Linked DNA regions of Homo sapiens. The protein of the gene in region 1 purifies or fractionates together with the protein of each later gene. This does not show direct contact. Each region holds a gene or a part of one and is shown in the gene's direction. Other genes may lie near its edges.

Region 1 (3,500 bases):
TATACCATTTATAGTGATTACAAAACATATCCTGATTGGAAATGTTACAACATGGCCCGGTGTGGTGGCTCACGCCTGTAGTCCCAGCACTTTGGGAGGCCGAGGTGGGAGGATCACTTGAGGTCAGGAGTTCGAGACCAACCTGGCCAACATGCCGAAACCCCATCTCTGCTAAAAATAGAAAAGATTATCCGGGCGTGGTGGTGTGTGCCTGTAATTCCAGCTACTTGGGAGGCTGAGGCAGGAGAATCGCCTGAACCCAGGAGGTGGAGGTTGCAGTGAGCCGAGATCATGCTACTGCACTCCAGCCTAGGTGACTAAGTGAGACTTTCTCAAAAAAAAAAAAAAAAAAGAAAAGAAAGAAATGTTACAATGTGAAAATATGTATTTTAATTTTTTTATTTTTTATTTTTTTTGAGATGGTGTCTCATTCTGTAGCCTGCCTTAGCCTCCGAGTAGCTGAGACTACAGCCACATGCCACCACGCCCGGATAGTTGTTGTATTTTTAGTAGAGACGAGGCTTCACCATGCTGGCCAGGCTGGTCTCGAACTTCTGACGTCGGGTGATCCGCCCGCCTCAGCCTCTCAAAGTGCTGGGATTACAGGCATGAGCCACCGCACCTGGCTTCTGTCTAGCTTCATTTGGCTCCTAAAGTCCTCTTTTTTTGTTGTTGTTGAATTAGAAAAAAATTTAACCCAAGATTATTGAGGAATAATTTATATAAAATATACCGATTTTAAATTACACTTTGTTGAGATTTAACAATTAGACGCGTGTCACCACCACCACAATGAAAAAAAGTTTCTCCAAAGAGTGCCGCCATAGTTCTTTGCAGTCAGTCAGTTGCTGTCATAGATTAGATCTGTCTTTTCTAGAATTTCCAATAAATGGAATCATACAGTGTATAATCTTTTGGTCTGGCTTAATGGTTTCAAGATTCATCCATGTTGAAATACCAATATGAACTGTTGGTGGACATTTAAGTTATTTCTAGCAGGTATTACTAATAAACCTGCCTAGAAAATATGTATGTAAGTCTTTGTGTGAACGTAAGTTTTTTTTTTTCTCTTCTTTTTTTATTTTTGAAATGGAATCTCGCTCTATTGCCCAGGCTGGAGTGCAGTGGCATGATCTCAGCTTACTGCAACCTCCACCTCCCGGGTTCAAGTGATTCTCCTGCCTCAGCCTCCCGAGTAGCTGGGAGTACAGGTATACGCCACCATGCCTGGCTAATTTTTGTATTTTTGGTAGAGACGGGGTTTTTGCCATGTTTGCCAGGCTGGTCTCGAACTCCTGACCTCAAGTGATCCACCCACCTTGGCCTCCTAAAGTGCTGGTATTACAGGCGTGAGCCACCATGCCTGGCCTCTCTTGCCCATTTTTAATTTGAGTTGTTTGTCTTCTTATTGAGTTCTAAGAGTTCTCCATATTCTGGATGCAAGTCCCTTTTCAGATATATGTTTTGTCAGTATATTTGGATCTGGAGCTTGACTTTTTGTCTTAACAATGTTTTCAGAGAACAGAAGTTTTTAATTTGATGAAGTCTAATTTATGAAGTTTTTCTCTTATAATTCATACTTTTTGTATCCTAATTAAGGACTGACTGCCTTTCCATCTCAGGGTTACAAAGTTTTTTTTAATGTTTTCTTCTAGAAGTTTTTTTAGCTTTAGCTTGTATATTAAGGTCTGTGATTAATTTTGATTTAATTTTTGTGTATGATTGAGATAAACGTGAAGGGTCATTTTTTTTTCCAAATGGATATCCAGTTGTTCTGACATCATTCATTCACTTACTTATTTTTTGGAGAGACAGGGTCTTGCTGTGTTACTCAGGCTGATCTCAAACTCCTGGCCTCAAGCTTCCTCCCACCTTGGCCTCCCAAAGTTCTCTAATTTCATTTATTGAAAGGCTTTACCTGTTGAAACACCTAGGTAGCTATATTGAAAATCAATCCATCATATATGCATGGGTCTAAAATTTTGAACTGTATTCTATTCCATTCACTTTATATGTCTGTCTTTATGCCAGTACTATACTGTCTGGGCTTTATAGTAATTCTTGAAATCAAGTACTTCCTCATATTTTATTCTTTTAAAAATTGTTTTGGTTATTGTCGATCATTTGCATTTCCATATAAATTTTAGAATGAGCTTGTCACAGTTTGGCATTTCCATCATTGATAACAAGCTATTTGTGAGAAATTTCTCAACTGATCACACTATATTGCTGAGACACAGAGTTGGGAAGTTGATGTTTTTGATTAGAATTTAGAGGCAGAATAGAAAGATCCAGTTTTGAATCCTGATGCTATCACATACTTTGAGTGTGATCTTGGATGAGCTTCAAGTATCTGATTCTTTGTTTTTTCATCAGTAAATAAGGATAGAAATGCCTATTGTCTATGATTGTTGTGAGGAAGAATTTGAAAAATGTATATAAAATTATCTGCAGAGGGGCTTTTGCATACTTGGCTCAATCAGTGATAGCTGTTATTCCCTATTATTGTCATTGTTAGTGCATTCTTGAGGTATAGATGGCACATCTTTCATTTCTGGAAGGTAAATTGTTTCCAAATATGTGTTTCACAAGAAATAGCCTATTGACCATATGTCAAACAGGTAAGTTAACTTTATCCTTTCTAGCAATCTATTACATGCCATTCTGGTGAATGAATAAAATTTAATTTTTGGTCTAAGTATTTTCTTTTGTATTCTACTAGAATCTTGAGCTCAATGATGACACCATTCTGAATGACATAAAGTTAGCAGATTGTGAACAGTTCCAGATGCCGGATCTGTGTGCTGAAGAGATCGCTATTATTCTTGGAATCTGGTGAGTTAATGACTGACTTGGCTGCTTTGAACACTTTGCATATTGATTCTCTTATGTGTGGAGAATCTTTATTCAAGGAGGTTCCAAGAGTTCTGGATGAATAGGGAATTTTGTAGTGCTTATGAAGATCAGAGGAAATACTTGGAGAACCAATTAAAGGGTTAGATATTACAAATCTCCAATGAGTTGATATATCTATTCTTCTGTTTCCTTTATAAGCACAATTTCTTTGGTTAGCTTTAGCTAGGAATAGATTATTAATAAAATATTAAAGACAAATGAGAATGACTATTTTGAGATTTGAGGATATTTACATTTCAAAGGATAGGATTATTTTTTAATACTGTGGAACCTTATCTATGGTGGAAATAGTTTTAACTTTTTTTTCTGATTAGAAATAATTTCAAATTTGTGAAAAATGTTTAAGGGCAGGACAATACATATAACTTCTAAGAATAAGTTTCCAAGATGATGCTGTATCATTCCTGAATAATTTAGTGTATATTTCCAACAAATAATGTTATTTTTGTACATAGTCACAATACAGCTATCAAAATCAGAAAATTAATGTTGGTACTTTGCTATCATTTAATTCTCAGACCCCATTCAAATTTTGCTAGTTGTTCAGATACTCTCTTTTAGAAAAGATCCAGTCTAGAATATAT
Region 2 (3,500 bases), on another chromosome or scaffold:
ATTAACTCCTGATATTCCATTTATTCATTTTCTGTTATAAATGAGGTTGTTAAAAGTATTTGTGCACAAAGCTTTTTTTTTTTTTTTTCTTTTTGCCTGGCTACCTCTGTCTCCTCCAAAGCTTTTTTTTTTTAATTTAGGATTTTTATTAAGCTAAATTTCTAGTAAAGTCCTAAGACATGGGAATGAATTTCTTTCTTTTACCTTTTTAAATTTGAAAATTTTTATCTTTAGAGACAGTGTTGTTTTGTTGTTCAGGCTGGAGTGCAGTTGGTGTGATCATAGCTCATGGGAGACTTGAACTCCTGGGCGCAAGGGATCCTCCAACCTTGAGTAGCTGGAACTCCAGTAAGCTTCCTGAGTAGCTGGAACTGCAGGCATGTGCCACCACACCTGGCTAATTAAAAAAAATTTTTTGTAGAGATGGGGTCTTGCTACGTTGTTCAGGCTGGTTTCAAACTTCTGGCTTCAAGTAATCCTCCTGCTTTGGCTTCCCAAAGTGTTGGGATTACAGGCTTTGGCCACTGTGCCTGGCCTTTCTTTTACCTTTTGTTTTGTTTTTTTTTTTTGAGACAAAGTCTCGCTCTTGTCCCCCAGGCTGGAGTGCAATGGCATGATCTCGGCTCACTGCAACCTCCGCCTCCTGGGTTCAAGCGATTCTCCTGCCTCAGCCTCCCAAGTAGCTGGGATTACAGGCGCCTGCCACCACGCCTGGCTAATGTTTGTATTTTTAGTAGAGATGGGGTTTCACCATGTTGGCCTGGCTGGTCTTGAACTCTTGACCTCAGGTGATCTGCCCTCCTCGGCCTCCCAAAGTGCTGGGATTACAAGTGTGAGCCACTGCGCCCGGCCTCTTCTACCTTTTGATTGGAGACTGTCATACATTCAGTAAAGGATCTTAAGTGTACTGCTCAATAAATTTTAGGTATGTATCTGCCATGCACCACCTTGCAGGTCCAGTCAAGATACAGGATGTTTACATTACTCAGAAGGCTCCTCATGTCTCTTCTTATTCCTCATGTGTCTTCTTATTCATCATGTGTCTTCTTAGCAATACCCACCCCATTTCCCCTGGCAACGTAATCACTTTTTTGACTTCTGTCACCATCAATCTATCAATTAGCTTTACCTGTTCATGAACTGGAATGAACGTTTTAAAGGCTCTTGATGCACAAGCAGTGGGCATCTCTTTGGGTGATGTGACTTCTTGACTGCTCCCTGCCAGGGCTACAGCACAGTTATCTCTGTAACCCTGGCCTTAGCTCCTTCGGGGCAGGAGACAGCTGCTCACTGCCCAGGCCTGTGCAGGCATAAACAGACTTGGGGATGGCCAGGCCCAGGGTGGGAGGCATATCTTGGGAAGTGGATTTCAACAGGTGACTTGTTTGACCAGGCCCAGCCGCAGCCCCAGCCCCAGCCCCAGCCCCAAGCCCAGTCTCAGCCACCGTCATCCAACAAGCGTCCCAGCAATAGCACGCCGCCCCCCACGCAGCTCAGCAAAATCAAGTACTCAGGGGGGCCCCAGATTGTCAAGAAGGAGCGACGGCAAAGCTCCTCCCGCTTCAACCTCAGCAAGAATCGGGAGCTGCAGAAGCTTCCTGCCCTGAAAGGTACTTGGCAATTGGTCACAGGGGCTGTTTTACCAGTTCTAGTGGGCATCGGGAGTTGGTGGAATGGAAGTTTTGGGGTATTTTGCGGGGAAGGGAGTTCCAGAGAATGCGGGAAGGGGGTGCCAGGGAGCAGGATGGTGGCAGGGTGGGGTAAGGGAAAGCCCTTGAAGGCAAGCAGGGCATCGCAGTGAAGGACTACAGAGGAGAACCTGACTGCTGGGGCCCCCACAGATTCGCCAACCCAGGAGCGGGAGGAGCTGTTTATCCAGAAGCTACGCCAGTGCTGTGTCCTCTTTGACTTCGTGTCAGACCCACTCAGTGACCTCAAATTCAAGGAGGTGAAGCGGGCAGGACTCAACGAGATGGTGGAGTACATCACCCATAGCCGTGATGTTGTCACTGAGGCCATTTACCCTGAGGCTGTCACCATGGTGGGCACAGGGAAAGGACACAGGGGGGACTGGTGAGGGGCTCTGGAGAAGCCCAGGTGGAGCTCTAACTGGCCCTACCCCTCAGTTTTCAGTGAACCTCTTCCGGACGCTGCCACCTTCATCGAATCCCACAGGGGCTGAGTTTGACCCAGAGGAAGATGAGCCCACCCTGGAAGCTGCTTGGCCACATCTCCAGGTACCAGGGCAAGGGGGCAGATTGGCCGTGGCTGCAGGGAGTGGGGCACTTGGAGGCCTGCAAGTCCTTGGGAACATCCCCTCAGTGGCGTGCCTTTTCCCCTATAGCTCGTGTATGAGTTCTTCTTACGTTTCCTTGAGTCTCCTGATTTCCAGCCAAACATAGCCAAGAAGTACATCGACCAGAAGTTTGTACTTGCTGTGAGTCCCCGAGTTCCTGTCCTTGCCCTCTCTTTCCATTCCATGCCCCCTTCATCTGTGTCCCAGTGGCTCTTTCCCCTTAAGCTGAATATATTGGGTTTCATCCATGTCTGGTACGAGGAGGCTATAAAGGGTAAAAAACAAAACAAAACAAAACCCTACTCTGGCCTTAAGAAACTAACAACATAATGGTAGGAAACAAAAAAGCAACAGAGTACCTCTCTCAGGTCAATAGTGAGGCATCACTTTGGAAGTCTCAGTACAAATACAATAGAATCAGCAATATAATAGAATCACTGCTTTCTAAGACTTGCTGGCCCCCACTCCAGGGGACCTCTGCATTTCCCCTGGCGGGACCTATGTCACCCTGGCCACTGCCTTCCCTGGCTGCTGCCTCACTGGCTGCTTTCCCTCCCTTGTACCCCCAGCTCCTAGACCTATTTGACAGTGAGGATCCTCGAGAGCGGGACTTCCTCAAGACCATTTTGCATCGCATCTATGGCAAGTTTTTGGGGCTCCGGGCTTATATCCGTAGGCAGATCAACCACATCTTCTACAGGTGAGGCCAGGAGCCCAGGCTTAGGAGCAAAACCTTCTGCTACTGAGGTGGGGTGGGAGCAGGGAGGTGGGGGGACTGTACAGAATGCTGGAGGGACATCAGGGGTTGTCAAGAGAGCCATTTTTCTTCCCTCAGGTTCATCTACGAGACGGAGCATCACAACGGGATTGCTGAGCTCCTGGAGATCCTGGGCAGGTGAGAGGCCGGGTGGGGGCACAGATGCCTGAAAAAGGTTGGCAGGATTGGTGTACTGAACTTGGATCTGACCCTCTGGTCCTAACAAATGTCCCTTAATTCCTAGCATCATCAATGGCTTTGCCCTGCCCCTTAAAGAAGAGCACAAGATGTTCCTCATCCGTGTCCTACTTCCCCTTCACAAGGTCAAGTCCCTGAGTGTCTACCACCCTCAGGTGAGCTGCCTTCCTCCTTATAATGTCCAACTCAGGCAGCAGAGAAAAGAGCCGGCAGGAAAGTGTTCCAGCTGGGATAGGGGAAGCATAGGGA
Region 3 (3,240 bases), on another chromosome or scaffold:
CGACCTGCTGGCCGTGTTGCGGGGCCTCAGTGAGGATTTCCAGAAAGCTGAGGATGCCAGCAAGTTTGAGCTCTGCCAGCTGCTGCCCCTCTTTTTGCCCCCGACAACCGTGCCCCCTGAATGCTACCGGGATCTGCAGGCCGGGCTGGCACGCATCCTGGGAAGCAAGCTGAGCTCCTGGCAGCGCAACCCTGCACTGAAGCTGGCAGCCCGCCTGGCACACGCCTGCGGCTCCGACTGGATCCCGGCGGGCAGCTCCGGGAGCAAGTTCCTGGCCCTGCTGGTGAATCTGGCGTGCGTGGAAGTGCGGCTGGCACTGGAGGAGACGGGCACGGAGGTGAAAGAGGATGTGGTGACCGCCTGCTATGCCCTCATGGAGTTGGGGATCCAGGAATGCACTCGCTGTGAGCAGTCACTGCTTAAGGAGCCACAGAAGGTGCAGCTCGTGAGCGTCATGAAGGAGGCCATAGGGGCTGTTATCCACTACCTGCTGCAGGTGAGGGTGCAGTGACCCACAGAGGGGGCCCAGTATGGGGGGAGCCAGTGCTGGAGCTGGGAGGCAAGGGGGAGGAGAATAATGGGGAGACAGCGAAGCTGCATGTCCACACAAGCTGATACTGTAGCCAGCACTCCAGGGAGTAGTGTGCGGCCCAACCTCCCTCTCTCTCCCTCCCTCCACACAAGCACCATACCACACACCATATGTGCACTCACATCACAGTACACACACACGCACACACACACAACACAGTAACCTCCCACTCAAACGCTCCCCCCAATACACACACACTACACGCCACACACCTCTCCCCAACACATGCACACAAGATTGAAGCAGTCTGTTCTGCTCACTCCATAGCATTGTTTTATACACGCACACACCCGAACTTCTAATGGTGCAGGGAAGAGAAGCAGGGCTGCCTGGTTCCTGGCCTCTATAGAGGTCTGGCTAGATCAATTCGCCTGCCTCCCCTACATCCCCTCCTGCCTCCCCGCCTGAGAGGCCAGCTGTCCTGTCCCACAGGGATTCAGTCATGACTCTGGTCTCTTTAATGGCCTGCTCCAGCCACCGAGCTCACCAGCCATATATTCCATGCACCACGCTAAGCTCATGTCTTTTTTCTGACTTAGCACAAAAGAGAGCATCCCCTCACTCCCACCATTGGGAGCAGTTACACAGTAGCCAGGAACCTGCCCTCCCACCCCAGGTCAGAGCTGCTGTAAAGGGTGTTTAACTTAGCTTTTGACCTATGAATTTCCTTCTAGCCTTGAGACACTCCAGAGGTAGGGAGTTAGGGAGATGTGACTGGAGCCTCAGCGAGTACGGGGGCATGTCACTCAATTCACTCAGGCCCAGTTCACTCAGCAGACGTGTGTGGAGGGCCTGGCTCACTCTGTGCCAGTCCCTTGTGTGCGTCCCTACCACATGCTAGGTGCTGGGTTCATGGGACAGAATAAAGGTTGGGGCCTGCCTTTGAAAGGCTCACAGGCCAGAATTTCCTTCTAGTTGTATTATTTCTAGCTGGCTGGCCTCTGGCAAGGCAGGGAGGGTCCCTGGTCCTGCTCCATCTCAAGGGGGTCCTGTGGCAACAGGTGGGGTCAGAGAAGCAGAAGGAGCCCTTTGTGTTTGCCTCGGTGCGGATCCTGGGTGCCTGGCTGGCCGAGGAGACCTCATCCTTGCGTAAGGAGGTGTGCCAGCTGCTGCCCTTCCTCGTCCGCTATGCCAAGACCCTCTACGAGGAGGCCGAGGAGGCCAATGACCTTTCCCAGCAGGTGGCCAACCTGGCCATCTCCCCCACCACCCCAGGGCCCACCTGGCCAGGAGACGCTCTCCGGTGAGTCTGTAGTTACAGTCTGTCCAGCTAGATCATTCTACCGAAAAGCGTTAACACAAGGACACCCCTCCCCACAAACTGAGCTGTGCCAGGCTTCCTGATTGGGCCATGAGATATCCCTTAGGGTTATTTCTGTTTTGGGGGGCTTGTTCCCACAGGACTCCTCGGCTGCCAGGTGTCACTTGCCAACCCCAGATTTCTCAGTTAAAAGAGAACTTATACTTATTGAGCACCTACTACGAGCCAGGTATTTTGCTATACCCTTTACCAAAATGATCTCATTTGGTCCACGTGGTAAATATAACAGAAGTCTCATTCACATATGAAAGATTAGGAAACTGAGGCTCATAGAGATTAAAGTCACTTGCCCACAGTCACACTTTGTGGCAGAGCCCAAGTTTGGTCCTGGGTTGTGCGACTCTGAAGCTTGTACTTTTTCTGTGGTACCTGCGAGGATGTGTCCTTCTCCCCTACTTCCATTTCTCTTAGGCAAGGTGCCCTAAAAAGGGAATCTATGTGCCTTCATCTCTCCCAATCCCACACACGTCTGTCCCTTCCACATCCCCAGGCTCCTCCTGCCTGGCTGGTGCCACCTGACCGTTGAAGATGGGCCCCGGGAGATCCTGATCAAGGAAGGGGCCCCCTCGCTTCTGTGCAAGTATTTCCTGCAGCAGTGGGAACTCACATCCCCTGGCCACGACACCTCGGTGCTGCCTGACAGCGTGGAGATTGGCCTGCAGACCTGCTGCCACATCTTCCTCAACCTCGTGGTCACCGCACCGGGGCTGATCAAGTGAGGGGCTCGGGAGAGGTGGGGGAGGAGGCCGGAGGAGGCAAAGGAGGCTGCCCAGTTGCCTCAATTCTCAGTCTCCTACTTTGCCCCCCATGCCCATGGATTTGTTAGTGGTAGCATGGGGGTCTCAGAGTAGACATAGCCAGCCCCGCACAAGGATTCGGCATGCTGGAACCCCCAGGTACTGTCTCAGCATGTCTGCTTGTTCCAATCTCTGCCCCCCAGATGCTATGTTTGGGGCCCAAAGTTAATCACCCTACTGCCTAATTTCTTGCCAAGGGCTTGATTTGGCTGTACTAGACCCCCACCTACCTCCATCCTTCCCCCCTTTCTTTTCCAGGCGTGACGCCTGCTTCACATCTCTAATGAACACCCTCATGACGTCGCTACCAGCACTAGTGCAGCAACAGGGAAGGCTGCTTCTGGCTGCTAATGTGGCCACCCTGGGGCTCCTCATGGCCCGGCTCCTTAGCACCTCTCCAGGTAAGAACTGGGGATCCAGTCCTGATGGGTGAGGACAGAAGACCTGGGTGGACCTCCTGTGTTTGGGGCAAAAGTCACCATTTTTAGAAGATGGTTTTGCAGCATTTTCTAAGCAAGAGGAAATCTTTG
Region 4 (3,956 bases), on another chromosome or scaffold:
GTATCTTTCCAGGGTATTGGGAGGATCCAGTTGGATGCTCTGTGAAACTTCTTTGAAAACAGTAAAATAGTATAAGAAGGAATCATGGGTTTGCTATTACTCTTAGGGAGGGACTGGGATCCAGGACAATCTGGAATGGGGTTTCAGATGTGGAAAAAATTACCATTCTGCTCCCCTGCCCATGTTTGTATTAAATGAAACTGTTCATGAGAGCATCAGAATAAGGGGTTGATATCCAGAATATATAAAGAACTCCTACAACTCAACAATGCAAAAACAACCCAATTTACAAATGGGCAAGGAAGTTGAATGGACATTTCACCAAAGAAGATATACAAATGGCCAATGTGCACATGAAAACATACTCAATATCCACTGATCATTAGGGAAATGCAAATCCAAACTGCAGTAAGATACTACCTCCTACCTATTAGAATGGCATGATTTAAACACACAGAGAAAATAACAGGCGTTGGCCAGGATGTGGAGAAATGAGAACCTTTGTGCATTGCTGGTGGGAATATAAAATGGTACGGCCCCTGTGAAAAACTGTGGCAGTTCATCAGAATTTAAACAGGGAGTTCCCGTATGATCCAACAGCTCCACTCCTGGGTTTCTGTGCAAAAGAACTGAAAGCAGAGACCCTAAGAGATATGTGTACACCCATGTTCATAGCAGCATTATTCACGATAGCCAGAAGGTAAAAACAACACAAATAGGCATTGACAGATGACTAGACAAACAAAATGTGGTATCTGCATACAACAGAATATTATTCAGCCTTCAAAAGAAAGGAAATTCTGACACATGCTGCATCATTAATGAACCTTGAAGGATATTATGCTAAGTGAAATAAGCCAGTTGCAAAAGGACAAATGCTGTATGATTCCACTTAGATGAGGTGCCTAGAGTAGTCAGATTCATAGAGACAGAAAGTAGAATGTGGGTTGCCAGGGCCTGGTGGGAGGAGGGAAGGGGGATAGGGTAGTCGAATTCACAGAGTTGGAAAGTAGAATGTGGGTTGCCAGGGCCTGGAGGGAAGAGGGAAGGGGGAGTTGCTGTTTAATGGCTGCAGAGTTTTGGCCGGGGATGATGGGGTCATTCTGAAGATGGATGGTGGTGATGGTTGTACAACAGTGTCAGTGTACTTAATGCTACTCAACTGTACACTTAAAATGGCTAAAATAATATGTATATTTTGCCACAGTTTAAAAAATAAAAATATTTTTAAATGGTTGAAATGGTAGATCTTATGTACAGATGCTCCTCAGCTTCACATGGGGTTATGTCTTAATAAACTGTAAATCAGATATACCGTAAGTAAAAAATGCATTGATTACACCTAACGTCCCTAACATTGTAGCTCAGCCTCACCCACCTCAAACGTGCTCAGAACACTAACACTAGCCTACAGTTGTGCAAAATCATTTAACACAAAGCCTATTTTATAAGGAAGTGTTGAATATCTCATGTAATTTCTTGAATACTGTACTGAAAGAAACAATTCAAAGTGCAGCTTCTTCTGAATGTGTATCACTTTGCATCATCATAAAGTCGAAGTGTCATAAATTGAATGTAAGTCAGGGTCCATCTGTATATTTTACCACAATTAAAAAAAAAATCAAAGACAGCTTTTAAGGGGGATAGAAGCCTCAAACTGGCAGCCTGTGGCCCATTTAGAAGATTAGAGCAGCAATTCAGTCGTGTTGGCTTGGGGCCTGGGACTTTATGGGATCCAGGGGCTTATAAGCACCCCCAAGCCTTTCTTAGGACCTTAGTACCGACTGGTGTAGCTACTACCTGTTCCTCTGGGTTACTGCCCGGGTGTCCAGTAGAACCCCCCAGGGGGTGGAGCCAGGGTAATGGCCCCCAGCCTCTGCCCAGATAGTAATTTTCCATTCTAGTCCTGCCCTAGCATCTCAGCTGGGTTTGGACCTTCTTTCTTGGTTTGGGGGGAGCATAGCAGGTGTCCTGGGCCTATGCCAGCAGCAGCTGATCTACCCGCCCCAGAAGAGCCGAACACCATGAGGAAATTTCCACAGCTTTCTCGCCCCCTGCCCTCCGTCTTCTCAGGAGTGACTTATCCTCTGTTCTCTGTAGGTTTTCTTTTCCTCTGCCTGCAGCATTGCCGTGGATGCCACCCTGAGAAAGAAAGCTGAAAAGTTCCAAGCTCACCTGACCAAGAAGTTCCGGTGGGACTTTGCTGCGGAACCTGAGGACTGTGCCCCGGTGGTGGTGGAGCTCCCTGAGGGCATCGAGATGGGCTAACTCGGGGAGCGCTCTCAGCTGCGAGGGGCCCCTTCCCACAGGGCTGCAGTCCTGGCCTCTCCATTTACTTCTTCCCATCCTGGGACCTGCCAGGGCAGCAATCTCTCCAGGTCCTGCAAAGATGGAGCCAGAATTCCCTTTTTCACTGATAAATATATTTCTTCATTGCCAAAGAGGCTGTACCCATCCTGAAGGCACATTTGTGGGTTCCCCATCAGCCAGGCCTTGGTGCTAACCTGGCTGAATTTCACACAGGCTCTTACACACACACGCTCCTAGGAGACATCTGCCTACACGGCAACCATATTTCCTCTGAATGAGAAGGAATTGAACCAAAAGTCCAAGAAAGAACTGATTGCTTGTTCCATAGGAGCTTAGGAAACAAGAAACCCTGGATTGCCCAGGGGGTCTGAGAAGTTGGTTGGTGACTTTTTTTGCGGTTAAATGAAGGGTGATGGGGAGATCAGCCCGAATTGCCGCCTGCCTCTTGCTAAATAGGAGCAGAGGACTTGGCCTGCAGCTCCTTGGGAGCCCTTGATTGGGAAGAGAGTTTCAAGGGAGGCAGCTGGATTCAATCTAGCAGGTGGTCAGCTTCAGCTTTCTCCATCGAAATCCCATTCTCCTGTCCAGAGGCCCAGTGGGTCATCTCCCAAGGTGGGTGTGGACCCTGGCCTCAGAGGCCTTGCTGGTGCTGTCACCTCCCACCTGTTCCATTCCGAGGCCTCACCCAGAAGTGGGACCCTCCCCTTCCTCACCAGAGCCACCGTGACTGTTTCTGATGACCTGGAGAGTCAACAACAACCAGAAAGGTTTCTGCCCAGAGCAGGCTTCTTAAGGCCTTTACGAAGTTTTGTGCCTTCCAAGTGCTGAAGAAGACCTGGTCAGCCTAAATCTTCCCAGTCCCGCTGTGGAGCTGTCAGTCACCGGAGTAATGAGCTCCTGGTTCCTCGGGAGTCCTTCGTGCTGTGTGGCAGGGTTCCTCTCTAGACAAGTACACAGGCCCTGCCACCCTGACATCAAACTGTTGTACTATGATCACAGTCCCTGTGCCATCCTTTTCCAAGACTGGGGCTCACACCATGTTTTTGAATGAGAATCCCTGCTGGTTGAGACTTTTGCTTCCACTTGTTTCCTTGGAGATGTTTTTCCAAGAGCATAATGTACATTAAAGTCTTCGAGTTGAGACAATCCCCTTGTGTGTGTGTGTCTCTTGCAGTTAATCCGCCTGATCTCCAGAGCAGCCAGGCTACTGTCCATAGACACACACCTCCCTCCAGTGTATGGGAGACTTGCCCAACCTCTGGAGTCTGGAAGAGGCAGGCAGCCAGTGTTCCTCCTGTTCCTCTTGAGGCCCCTGAGACAGGCACACAAGGAAGAAGGGATGAGGCCCCATGTCTCAATAATAACCCAAGAATCACCTGATATGAATTGGCTCCTCTTTTTCTCCCAAAGCCCACTCATCAGAACTAGCTGGGGAGCTTGTGAAAACTGTATCTTTAAAGGAGTGAAGTCCTGATACATGCTACAACACGGATGAACCTTGAGAATGTGCTAAGTCAAAGACACAAGGACCACCTATTATGTGATTCCATTCACGTGGCATGTCCACTAGAAACAAATCCACAAAGAGGGAGAGTCAATTAGCGGTTACCAGAGAATAAGACAGTATGGAATGGCAGTGACTGCTG

The links. Proteins that work in one complex are often made in the same cells at the same time.
Region 2: the proteins of TTC27 (region 1) and PPP2R5D purify together in Homo sapiens (affinity purification with mass spectrometry; 2 studies listed by BioGRID and IntAct, with this or other methods). This does not show direct contact.
Region 3: the proteins of TTC27 (region 1) and NCDN purify together in Homo sapiens (affinity purification with mass spectrometry; 2 studies listed by BioGRID and IntAct, with this or other methods). This does not show direct contact.
Region 4: the proteins of TTC27 (region 1) and AAR2 purify together in Homo sapiens (affinity purification with mass spectrometry; 3 studies listed by BioGRID and IntAct, with this or other methods). This does not show direct contact.

Annotation. Positions count from the first base shown.
Region 1 is NC_000002.12:32,669,550-32,673,049, forward strand, and holds part of TTC27 (tetratricopeptide repeat protein 27), read left to right. Parts: intron 1-2,722; coding exon 2,723-2,835; intron 2,836-3,500.
Region 2 is NC_000006.12:43,005,070-43,008,569, forward strand, and holds part of PPP2R5D (serine/threonine-protein phosphatase 2A 56 kDa regulatory subunit delta isoform), read left to right. Parts: intron 1-1,376; exon of another isoform or gene 1,377-1,393; coding exon 1,394-1,610; intron 1,611-1,841; coding exon 1,842-2,041; intron 2,042-2,126; coding exon 2,127-2,237; intron 2,238-2,344; coding exon 2,345-2,437; intron 2,438-2,865; coding exon 2,866-2,996; intron 2,997-3,131; coding exon 3,132-3,191; intron 3,192-3,297; coding exon 3,298-3,406; intron 3,407-3,500. UniProt on the Homo sapiens protein: The B regulatory subunit might modulate substrate selectivity and catalytic activity, and might also direct the localization of the catalytic enzyme to a particular subcellular compartment.
Region 3 is NC_000001.11:35,560,799-35,564,038, forward strand, and holds part of NCDN (neurochondrin), read left to right. Parts: coding exon 1-496; intron 497-1,593; coding exon 1,594-1,835; intron 1,836-2,403; coding exon 2,404-2,628; intron 2,629-2,968; coding exon 2,969-3,111; intron 3,112-3,240. UniProt on the Homo sapiens protein: Probably involved in signal transduction in the nervous system, via increasing cell surface localization of GRM5/mGluR5 and positively regulating its signaling. Required for the spatial learning process.
Region 4 is NC_000020.11:36,253,478-36,257,433, forward strand, and holds the end of AAR2 (protein AAR2 homolog), read left to right. Parts: intron 1-2,100; coding exon 2,101-2,268; 3' UTR 2,269-3,456; downstream 3,457-3,956. UniProt on the Homo sapiens protein: Component of the U5 snRNP complex that is required for spliceosome assembly and for pre-mRNA splicing.